Regions from separate parts of the Homo sapiens genome. Here region 2 is reported to be linked to region 1. The links are microRNA targets in miRTarBase. Many come from high-throughput screens and were not tested one by one. Region 1 holds a microRNA gene; the other region holds the end of a gene's coding sequence.

Region 1 (5,077 bases):
AGCCACACATCCAGGGACGCTGCTCCATAAGAGCTAAGGACTCCCAGGGATATCTCAAAGTCATTAATCTTAAAGAGCCTAGAGATCACTGATTCTAATACTTCCGTATTGGAGATGAGAAAATGAAGCTCAGAGAGGAACAAAAACACAGTTAGTGGTAGAAAGGAGACCAAAAGTCAGGCCTGTGAACTCCTCAGTGCATATATTTATTGCAGCATCTGGATCTTCTTTGCCTCAAAACTTAGAATATTTTTAAATACAGGACAAGCTAGTAAAGAATTCCTATGTAATAAAGATAGTCCACAGCTGCAGAGGCTAAACAAAAATGAGATGATAACATGTGACCTTTCTTAGGCAGATGGCTGGTTGGGGAAAGTAGATGAATGAAAAGAGGAAAAGATCTCCAGAAGAGCGGGAAGGTATAAAGTTTCTCTAGGACAGTTTCCCAAATCGTGCTTCATTGGACATTGACACAGGAGAAGGCTGTGGGGGAAAAGAAAATTCATGATCAGATAGGTATGGCAAATGCCTCATTCTATGGTTTCCTCTTTGAGATTCTCAATGCAACATTAGACTATTAAAGGCTCTGAAAAATCCTACAAGAAAACACCTGTATAACCTTGTGTGACCAAGTAATACCAAAATTTATTTGCCCTCTGAGTCTGCTATTTTGCCCTCTTCCTCCAGCCCTTGACACTGTTTCTCAGGAAGAAAACATCCTTCATGCTGGCTACTACCTCATATGCTCTATAACATTGTGGTGTTCACAGTTTGAATTTTTCAAAATCCAGGGTAGAATTTGGCCCCCAAACCTAAAGCTAGTGGACAAGAGGAAAGTCAATCAATCAGTAAATATTTATTATTTTCTGTAACTAAAGTACTGGGCTGTGGTAGGGGAGACAACAATCAAAGACATAGCCTTGTCTTCCAGAAGCTCACAATCTAGTTGGGAATTCAAGAATACCCCTTAGAAAAGTTCATTGACAATTTACGAGGTGCTATTAGACAGTAGGAGAGAAAGGCATACATACCAGGGCCCAGGGAAGAAGAGCTTTGTGAATGAAGAAGGAAAAAGTGTAAGTTGACTTTCAAAAGTCTCTGGAAACACTGGACTTTAGCTGGTCCAGGAAATATAGGGAAGAATTGGATAGGCAGGAATAAATGGAGAAAGTGTTCCTACAGGAAAAGACATGTGGAAAAGGGGAGAGGTAGGCAAGATCAAGGAGTGTTTAGAAGGCAAGACTGAGTATCAAGAAAGTGAATTTCTAAGCCCTGCTTACTCAGATAAGCCATTAGGCTTGTGTGAGAATGCTGATGTCCTAGATAGGAGACTCTGGGAGGGGAATATGAAGGAAGAAAATAATAATGAATCAAAGAGCACTTCCATTCCTGGACACTTTATACATTTTCAAGACTATTGCGCCCCCATCAGCACTCTCATGGTGTGTGTAGACACAGCCCAGGGCTGTATTTCCCTGAGATGCCACACTTTTCCCCTGGTGTCCTCAGATATAATGCCTCAGTTCCTGCAAAGTCACATAAAATAACTTGTGAGAACTTGGTGCTTGGTGAGCATCCTTGTATCCAGCTGGCAGTCCATTCGTCATATCCCATCTGCCCTGGCCTAGAGCTGGTAAGCATGTGCCGCACTTGGGGTATTTGACAAACTGACACTCTACCACATGGAGTGTCCAACTCAGCTTGTCAAATACACGGAGCGTGGCACTGCAGGAGGCCAGGCCAAGAGCTTCTGTGGGGAAGTGAGATCTTCCTGGGAGATGTGACCCTAGAGGGAAAGAGAGAGAAAGGAATGATGAAGTCACACCCTTAGCCCCGGGGATCTTGCTCAAAGGACCAACCAAAGCACCAGAATAGGGAAGTGAGCAAAATAGGCATAGGGTTCCTAACCAGAAGAGAGATCCTGAAGATAAGCAGGTAAAGCCCGAGTGACACCCAGTGCTCAGCTGGAAGCTCATCAGGCCTGAGTCCTGTAGCTATGGCATTTCTAGGGGTCCCAAGCTTCAGTGGGTTCCTCTATGCAGCAGAGAGGGGAAAATTTGGTCATCATCCTGCCTCCCTGACTTGAGGAAAGTACCAGACCCTAGAGTCAGCATCCTTGCTCCCTCTTCTCAATTCTCCCAAGCTGTGTTTTCAGTGTTGTGGTTATGCACATAGGCTTTGAGGTTAAACATGAGCTTAAATCCTAGTTCTTCCATTAGCTAGTTAGGCAACCTTGGATACATCATTTCACCTCTCTGAGCTCAAGTTTTCTACACCCACAAAATGTATGTAAGTATAATACCTACCTCATAAGGTTATTGTGAGAATGACAGGAGATAATGCATGTAAAGCCTTTGGTTCAGTATTCAATACATAACAAATGCTCAAAAAGTAGTGGTTGTGTGACCAAAATGAAAGAAAGAGCTATTGGCAATTGATTTAGCAGGATCTGGACAGGTGTGACATTGATTTCTTGTGGTCTCAGCCTTGCCTAACATGATCCTCTTGTCCCATAGGGACTCAAGAATGGCAGCTATTAAAGTGCCCTTAAAGATCATCTAGTCTCACTCACTTAGGTTATAAATGAGATAACAAAGGCTCCTGTTGGGGAGGAGACTTGTAAAGTTTATACAATAAATTTTTTACAGTTCAGCAGTATGCCTTATACAGCTTTCCTCATTGGTTATTTTGCCTCCCTTCTCTGTATATCCCTCTGGGAAAGGGAAGACACATCAACAAAGAGGGCAAAAACAGGCAATAGCTTTGTAATGCAACATTTGGGATCACTGAACCCACAAGCCACCAGGGCAATAAGGAAGCTGCCAGGAGCAGGGTCAGGTCTGAAACTTCTGGGAGAATTCCCTTGGCAACAATCAGATCCTGTTGCTAAAAATCCCAGGTTGCTGGTGTCAAATTACTGCCCTTACCAGCTGTGGCAGTTGATCTGTGAGCAGGTAGCTGGTCTACATTAAATATTGTCATGAAAAGTGGCAAACATCACAAGGTTACCAGAAATGGTAAACTGCCCCCATGAGGCCGGAAAGCCCTGTCCCAGCCCAGGTAAGACAGAGGGATTCAGCCTTGTCTTTCAGCAAGAAAACAATCAGTGTCTTTTCTTGCTCTATTCTTTTAATTGAATGTTAAGAAGGTAACATACTCCTTCAATTTAAGTTCTGGCAGTCATCTCAAAACTAAAGCTCTTTCACTCCCTCACTTCCTTTTCTACCTACCCAATTCAGCCTAATCCACCCAGCAGCAAAAGCAGCAGTCATGGTCACCAAATATGGCATGACAGAATCGACAAACTTGTGTTCTAATGCTGTCTTGGCCATCAACTAGCCAATCATGGCTTGGGCAAGTCTTTCTTTGGGTTTCAGTTGTCTTCTCTGGAAATGAGAACAAGGAGACTTACCTACTTACCTGGCAAAGTTGTTGGAAAGTGTTGCTAAGCTTTCCAGAGCCTCCCACATAGGAGCTCAAAAGGACCTTGTCTCAGCCCCTGGACCTATGGTTGGAGGCCAGCCAAGCAAGCTGATTAACAGAGTCTGAGTTGGGGATGGCAGGAGAAAAAGAAATGGATTGTTACCTTTTTTGTATCATTACACTCATTGGCTGTCAGCTCCAGTAAGAAGACCTAGATAAGCTGGAGGTGTTCACAGCCTTTTGAATGCACTTTCTGACTTTATTCACCTCCAGAAAGGCTGGAAAGGAGGCATGAAAGGGGCTAAAAATTATTAGTACTTTGAAATTTGTGGAGCCTTATAGACAACATTGCTTCAGTATTAATGGAAGGAGTTAGTGGTTGAGCTGAAACTAGACTGGTATGCCTCTCCAATGGAGTGTATGTAAGAAAATCACATTCAGTTGAGAAATGTTCACCAGACCCATAGAAAGAAGACATAAATATCTATATGGGATGATATTAAGGGAATTTGAAAGCTCTTCTCTTGGTCTGTTATATTACTTAGAATAACATCATTTTTCCCCATATGAAATGCAAAATCCTCTACTGAAGAGCGTCATCAAGCCACTATTGTTGATGCAAAGGATGGGTCAGTTTTTATGGAGGGAATTGGAGGGAATAGACCAGAAGAATTAGGGGTAAGTAGGTGTCTAGGAATCTCTGAACACTCAGAGTGAGCCAAGTACCTGAAAGAAAAATAGAAGAAAAGAAGAAGTCCTCAGGACCATGCCTAAAAATCCCAGACTGCCTCTAGTATGAGCAGGACCTGTCCTGGGTCAGTTACAGGACAGGTCCTGCTGCTTGATGTCTCAGTCCTCCTAGGATAGAGCAAAAAGAGGACTGACCTGGGAGCCCAGACCCAGCTGTGCTACAGATTCTCTGTATGACTTTGGGCAAGTCCCTTTCTTCCTCTTTCTGGACCTCAGTTTCTTCCATATGTACCTAGTCTCTAAGAGTCTTTCAATTTTGAATCTCTAGGAGTCAAAGATTGGACTAGAAAAGAGGCTTTCATCTTTGAGTCATGCCTCTCAGAGAGTGCTATATGGATTACCACCAGCACTCTCCTCTTGAATGTGTTCAGCCCCACCCACAGTTACATATGCAAAGATTACTCTCATCTTCTTTCTTGACAGAGGGCTGACAATCATGAAAATTAGGAATCTAATAACCATGGGTCTCTAGACAGCATCTATCTAATCATTCTTTTCCTCTTTTTACTTTTTTATTTTGCAAAAGGGGTGAAAAAACTGTGTCCTAGATTGGAGAAAGGACTTACCCAAAGATACACATTGGGTAAATGGTAAAACCAGGACTGCTACTCAGGTTTCCTGACTCCTGGGTCCAAAGGCCATTCCACTTCCATGTGACTATCTCCTAAACATCCTGATTGGATAGAAAATATCCTATCCCCTTTTCCCCTCCATTAGAACCTCTAGGATAAAAGGCCAATGGAAGCCTTCTTCCTCCCACCTTTGACCTTAATCCCTGAGGAGGGTCTGAAGAGAATGGGATGGGCAGATCCAAGCCACCCTTGGCTGCCATGGACTCTGCCCCAGCTTGAGAATCCAAGAAGAGAGGGCAAATGGATACCATACCTGTCAGTGGAGTGGTGCC
Region 2 (5,077 bases), not on the chromosome of region 1:
GGTTATTCATGAAAACCAAATACCAGCTATGTGGCATCTTCTGGGAAAGCACAGGGGTGGGAGAATCCTGGGGTGTGTTTGGCAGCACTGTCCAAAGTACAGTTGACTTCTTAGGCTGCTGAACAAATTTCTTCTCTTGCCCCAGGAGAATTTGATCTGCAGGTTCCCATAAGTAGAGTAACATCTTTCTCTTGAAATAGGTGCTGTGTCATAGTCTGTATCATAAGCTTCTCTTGGTCAACATAATGAAATGAAAGTAACTCAGCTCCTTGACTGGTATCAATCTTAGCAGGGATTAGGAGACAAGAAGAAAGCTGGTTTCTCCAACAATCTTCCTCAGATTCCCTAGAATCCCCCCTTTTTGCACAGCTTCTCTGGAGCTATGAAGTTCAAAGCATTGAATCCAAACTCGAAGTCCCCATTCAACCCACTCAGCCTTGACTGGGCTGATTGGATCATTGCCATTTTGATGTAGAACCTTTGCTCTCATTTTCATGTTCAATTTTCTATAGTTTCCAAGCTAGGAAGCATTTCTGTCTGTATAGAGTTGTTTGCAGGGATGAAATCAGGTATTTTATTTTCCTGGTAGACATAGTTTGAAGGGACCTCTGATGTTTGAGACCTCTAGATTCCTAGCATTTTGATGGCAGAAACTGTGGTTTTCTTATCTCTGAACTTCCAGTGCACTGCAAAGTTCTGGGCATATATTGGTGCTTAATAAACCCTGTTAAATGAATAAACAAATGATTTTTTCTTTATTACACCCCCATTTCAGTAGCATGGAATTATGAGGATGATTTTGCCAAATTATGAGTAGGTCCTATTAGATTAGGTTTTTCTACAGGAAATTATTCTTTCAAACTACAGTGTCTAGGAAGTACCTTGCACAAAATAGACACAGGATGCATAATTGTTGATTAATTAGTTCATTTTAACCTATACACCTTGGGGTTATCTAGTTATGTTTTCATGAAAACTAGGGCTTTGTAATATCAATGTCATGTCTAATAAGCCTAAATTTCCAGTTCTAAAAACAAAGTTATTCAACAACACTTTCTCAATTTGATGTGTTTTTCTTTTCCTGAAATAATTTTTTTCTTAAGCTTTTGATATTTGCTTTTGTGCTGACATTTGATAGTCAAAACTCAAACGATCTCAAGTACTTCTTTCTCAGCTCAATAGGATCATGTTTCGCTTAACATTTGTGAAGTTGATTTATCTAATTCATTTTGATCTTGCTAAAATATGACCTTTAAAATTTTTCATGTCACATTGTGACCCAGAAAGACCAAATACATACATGAGATCATAGTTTTACCTGATAATATCACTCCTAGTTTGATGATGGAATTAATTTGTCAATATTTCATGGAGTTCTGCTGAAACGATTGCAATTTCTTGGGCAAGTTTCAGAACGACTAGTATATCTGTGGTCATGTCATCTTGGGTCATGTTAACCAGTTCCATTGGATTATCATGCTGTTCCCTTGTCTGACAAAAGGATCTTTGTGAAAGCACACACTGTTTCTTCCCATAACTCACATTCAATTCCAGACCCTGAATTTCTGCTTGCTCACTGTGAGCCATATTGTTGAGATTGTCTGTGCATAGGCAACTTGAGCAGGTTTGGTTTGCCTTTCTGGAATATATTTTTTGGGGAACAAAAGGAGAATATCAAAGCAGAGTTATTCCAGAAGATCATTTTTCTCTTTTCCTTTTTGTTTTCTTAAATGGGAAAAAAACAGCTCTTAAGGTTCTTATTATTTATTCATTCATAAAACATGTATTTTGTCTATGTCTATACTGATAAAGACAACTTACTAGATGTTAGACAATCAATACTTCCCTACTACTGATCAATACAAACCCAATCTCTGCTGTCCTGGTCTTATGATCCAGCAGGGAAGCTAGACTGCCTGCCTATGGTTTAGGAAATAATACAAGCTCCAATCCTTTCTAGGTTATTAAAAGAATCTAAGGTAGTTCCTCCAATTTTGGATCAATGGTAAATACTTTAAGGTAGAACTCCATTGAGTTGCTGGAAAATGCATCATCTATTGGTAAAATACTTAAGATAGTAAGTTCTTCAAGAATACTAATAAGTAAGTTAAAAAATTAATTGGCGCATATGTGGAGAGTATGACTCACTCTCCTTTATTGTTGGTTTCCAGTAACTCATGTACATAAAGAAGAGCATAGTAACATGTTGGATGTTAGGCAGGTGATCATCTCAAGTGAAAGATTCCAGGAAGATCAGGATTCAATAATCAAGCCCTCAGGAAGGGGCATAGGGTTTCTTAGGTTGTAATCCCCACTGGCACTTTCAGCCATATTGAAGGAGTGGGGAAAAGGCCCAAATAACCCATGCCCTTTGTCCTTCAGATTGCCAGCATGTCAAATGGAAGCCCGTGGGGCTTCATGTCTGATGCATTGAGCATTCTGGTATATTTCCCATCTCAGACTTCAAGGTCTACACCCATCCATTTATGGGGCTCTCCATAAAAAACACCCTTCTGCTGCTCACAATGTCTGCCCTTGGCCTGGGACTTTGGGCTTTGGTTCTAAGTTCCTAAAGTCAGGGGTCAAGCTCTAATCATTACTGTATTCTGAGCTTTTTGTACAGTAACTGTTGACATGTGAGTTGAAAGGAACCTATCTCTGAGGAAGTGATTCCTCTCTCCAACATAGTGCCAGACTCTCGTATTAGGAAATGATGAAACCATCAACCAAATGTCTGCCATAGCTACTGTGGCTCTTGACAAGACTGTGAGGGAGAATAGCAGTGTCAGCTGCATACAGACATTTGTTTAGGTCATCTGGATTATCTTGATTGTCACCATGGCAACTATCCACAACCAGTGCCTAGGTGTGTGAGAAGAGTGATACAATAATACTGTGGCATGGTCATTTAGCTAATTCAGTCTAAGCCTAACAGAAACCTTTTCCATCAAAGTTTTTCAGAGAATAACAACATCTCATAAGAGGCCAGAGGATGGCTTGTGCTTAATATCACACCTGTACAGTAGGGCAGTGCTTCCCAGGCTGTCTGCTTACATTTTAGCTTGTCTTACGGTTACATATGGTTTTAGTATTTTCATTTAAAAAATCTGGGTTGGTTCCATAAATTTGGAAAAGTAAAATTGGACGGTTCTGGAAATTTTGCCTGTTTACACATCTGTAAATGTAGCTTGCTTGCATTATTTTTTTCTAGATCTGAAATGCATTGCATCAAGCAAGCATGTTTTGCAATAAAAGTGGAAATCCCCCTCCTGCTGGATAAACTGGGTGCTTTCCACGCGACACAAAGTCATATATCTTGACACAATCTCTAGGATGCATTATATAAATGGAAGAATGGTGTGGTGAGGGGAAACAAGGTCAGGGAGAGTGGGCAGACCTGACTTTTGAGTCCTGGTTCTCTATGGGACAACTGAGTGACTCTGGGTATGTCACTTTACCTGAGCCTAAGATTCTTCATTTATAAAAGGAAGTCCTTGGACTAGAAAATTTCTGTGTGCCTTCTTGACTTTAATTTCTATTTTAGATGGATATTTTGTACTTCAGTATCATGGGAAGAAATGAGAGTTGGAAATTCATTTTAAAGGCACTGAACTCAGCTCCTGCCCAGAGGGGCACTTCACTTCTGATAAATTCCATTGTCCTTGGCTACATAAATTGGAAACTATTTTAACTTTGTGTATGTGTGTGTGTGTGTGTGTGTGTGTGTGTGTGTGTGTGTTTTCTCCCTGCCAATTCATAACTCATCAGAAATGCTACACTTGGGATTACCACCACTTTTTACAGATAAGGAAACTGAGGCATGATACTAAGTAACATCAGGCCAAGTGAGGTCTTTTGGAGAGCTTTTAAAAGGTTTTGCCTTAAATATTTGTTTAAATTCTTTGTTTTAGAGACACAATGACTATCTCATTCCTTTCCTAATGTTAGCTCAGTAGGCAGCCCCACTGATACACAATGTGGTTTTGTTGAGAAAATTATTTCCTTGCTTTCAAAAACAGTTAATTGCTGGAGCGTTTTACACAAGAGGGCAGTGATCCTAGAAATAACTTAAACTACTTTCTCTGCTTACCAAACCAAAACCCAAACCAGCCAACCAAACAGACAAATAGCATGGCTCATCAGTAATTTCTCCCTGTACTGGTCCAATCGTGATTAAAAGTAAGAACAGCAGATAAATGTGTATCCTAGAAGAGATTAGCGGAACCATTTATATAGTGTAAAGTCATGCAAACCATGCTGAAAAGGAAGCACTTTGTTGTGGTGACATGGGGAGGAAGAGGCTGTGGGAAGCCCCTGCCTGGGTGGGGCCACCACGCACACGCATGCATTTGATGCAGCCATTGGTGTCCCCGCTGGTAAGCGTCGGGTGTAAGAGTAAGTGAACTATACAAAGTCTGTCTACATTACAAGGAGGGGTCAGCCAGTGACCTCTTTTAAATGGGCTTATTGGAAGGGGTCCATACTGAATCAGAAATCCCATCCCCTGTGGACGACAGAGGCATGGAGCCGCTGGGCGTGAAGGGGTCCGTGTCTGTGTCCGTCTCACCCTCGGCGAGGTACCGCTTCTCCCTCATCCAGCTCGACCCCCCATTGGGGCCGAACACATAATCATCTCTGTCCTGGGAGATGCTGAAGCCACTTGGAGACCTCTCCAGCTCCTCGTGGTTGACCGACATCAGGGACAGAGGTGTGTCACTGTCTCGCGTGATGCTACGTCTCTGCCGGGGGGAGATTCGGTCCGAGTAGGGGCCCTGCAGGTCAGCCTGGGAGTGGCAGCTCACTCGGGAGTCGAGAAGAGTCAAGATAGGCAGGACCGTGGGCCTCTCCACATACGTTGTTGCTGAGGAAGGAGGAGTTGCCTGAACCTTTCCAGAACTGGGTCCCCCTCGGGGCAGGTTCACAGGGTCATGTGCAAAAAACCCATAGGGGCTGACTTTGTCAATGGTCACCTGGTGGAAGCTGTAGGGTGGTTCCGGGGGGCCTGTCTCAGAATAGTTGCAGATGATGGTTTTCAAATCGGAATACCTGTTGTCCTCCTTCTTCTCTGCTTCAGCTG

What was found. The annotated mature microRNA hsa-miR-223-5p reads CGUGUAUUUGACAAGCUGAGUU and lies in region 1 at 1,694-1,715, opposite strand. An mRNA with a match to its seed (bases 2 to 7 or 8) in the 3' UTR can be bound and repressed. Matches are read on the target gene's strand: a 7mer-m8 pairs with bases 2 to 8, a 7mer-A1 pairs with bases 2 to 7 and ends in A, and an 8mer does both.
Region 2: the mRNA of KCNQ3 is a reported target of hsa-miR-223-5p. Seed matches in the 3' UTR shown: 7mer-A1 at 4,198-4,204 and 7mer-A1 at 3,695-3,701.

Annotation. Positions count from the first base shown.
Region 1 is chrX:66,015,533-66,020,609 of GRCh38, reverse strand. MIR223 (microRNA 223) reads right to left here and starts at 1,740; the gene lies at 1,631-1,740. MIR223HG (MIR223 host gene) reads right to left here. Exons shown (of 3, transcript NR_170299.1): 1 at 5,059-5,077; 2 at 3,421-3,545; 3 at 184-1,786.
Region 2 is chr8:132,124,808-132,129,884 of GRCh38, forward strand. It overlaps KCNQ3 (potassium voltage-gated channel subfamily Q member 3), which reads right to left. Exons shown (of 15, transcript NM_004519.4): 15 at 1-5,077. The coding sequence ends at 4,455. Among named protein-coding and RNA genes, the nearest start is that of HHLA1, 16 kb to the left of the region's middle. RefSeq lists enhancers at 4,026-4,526, 4,527-5,027.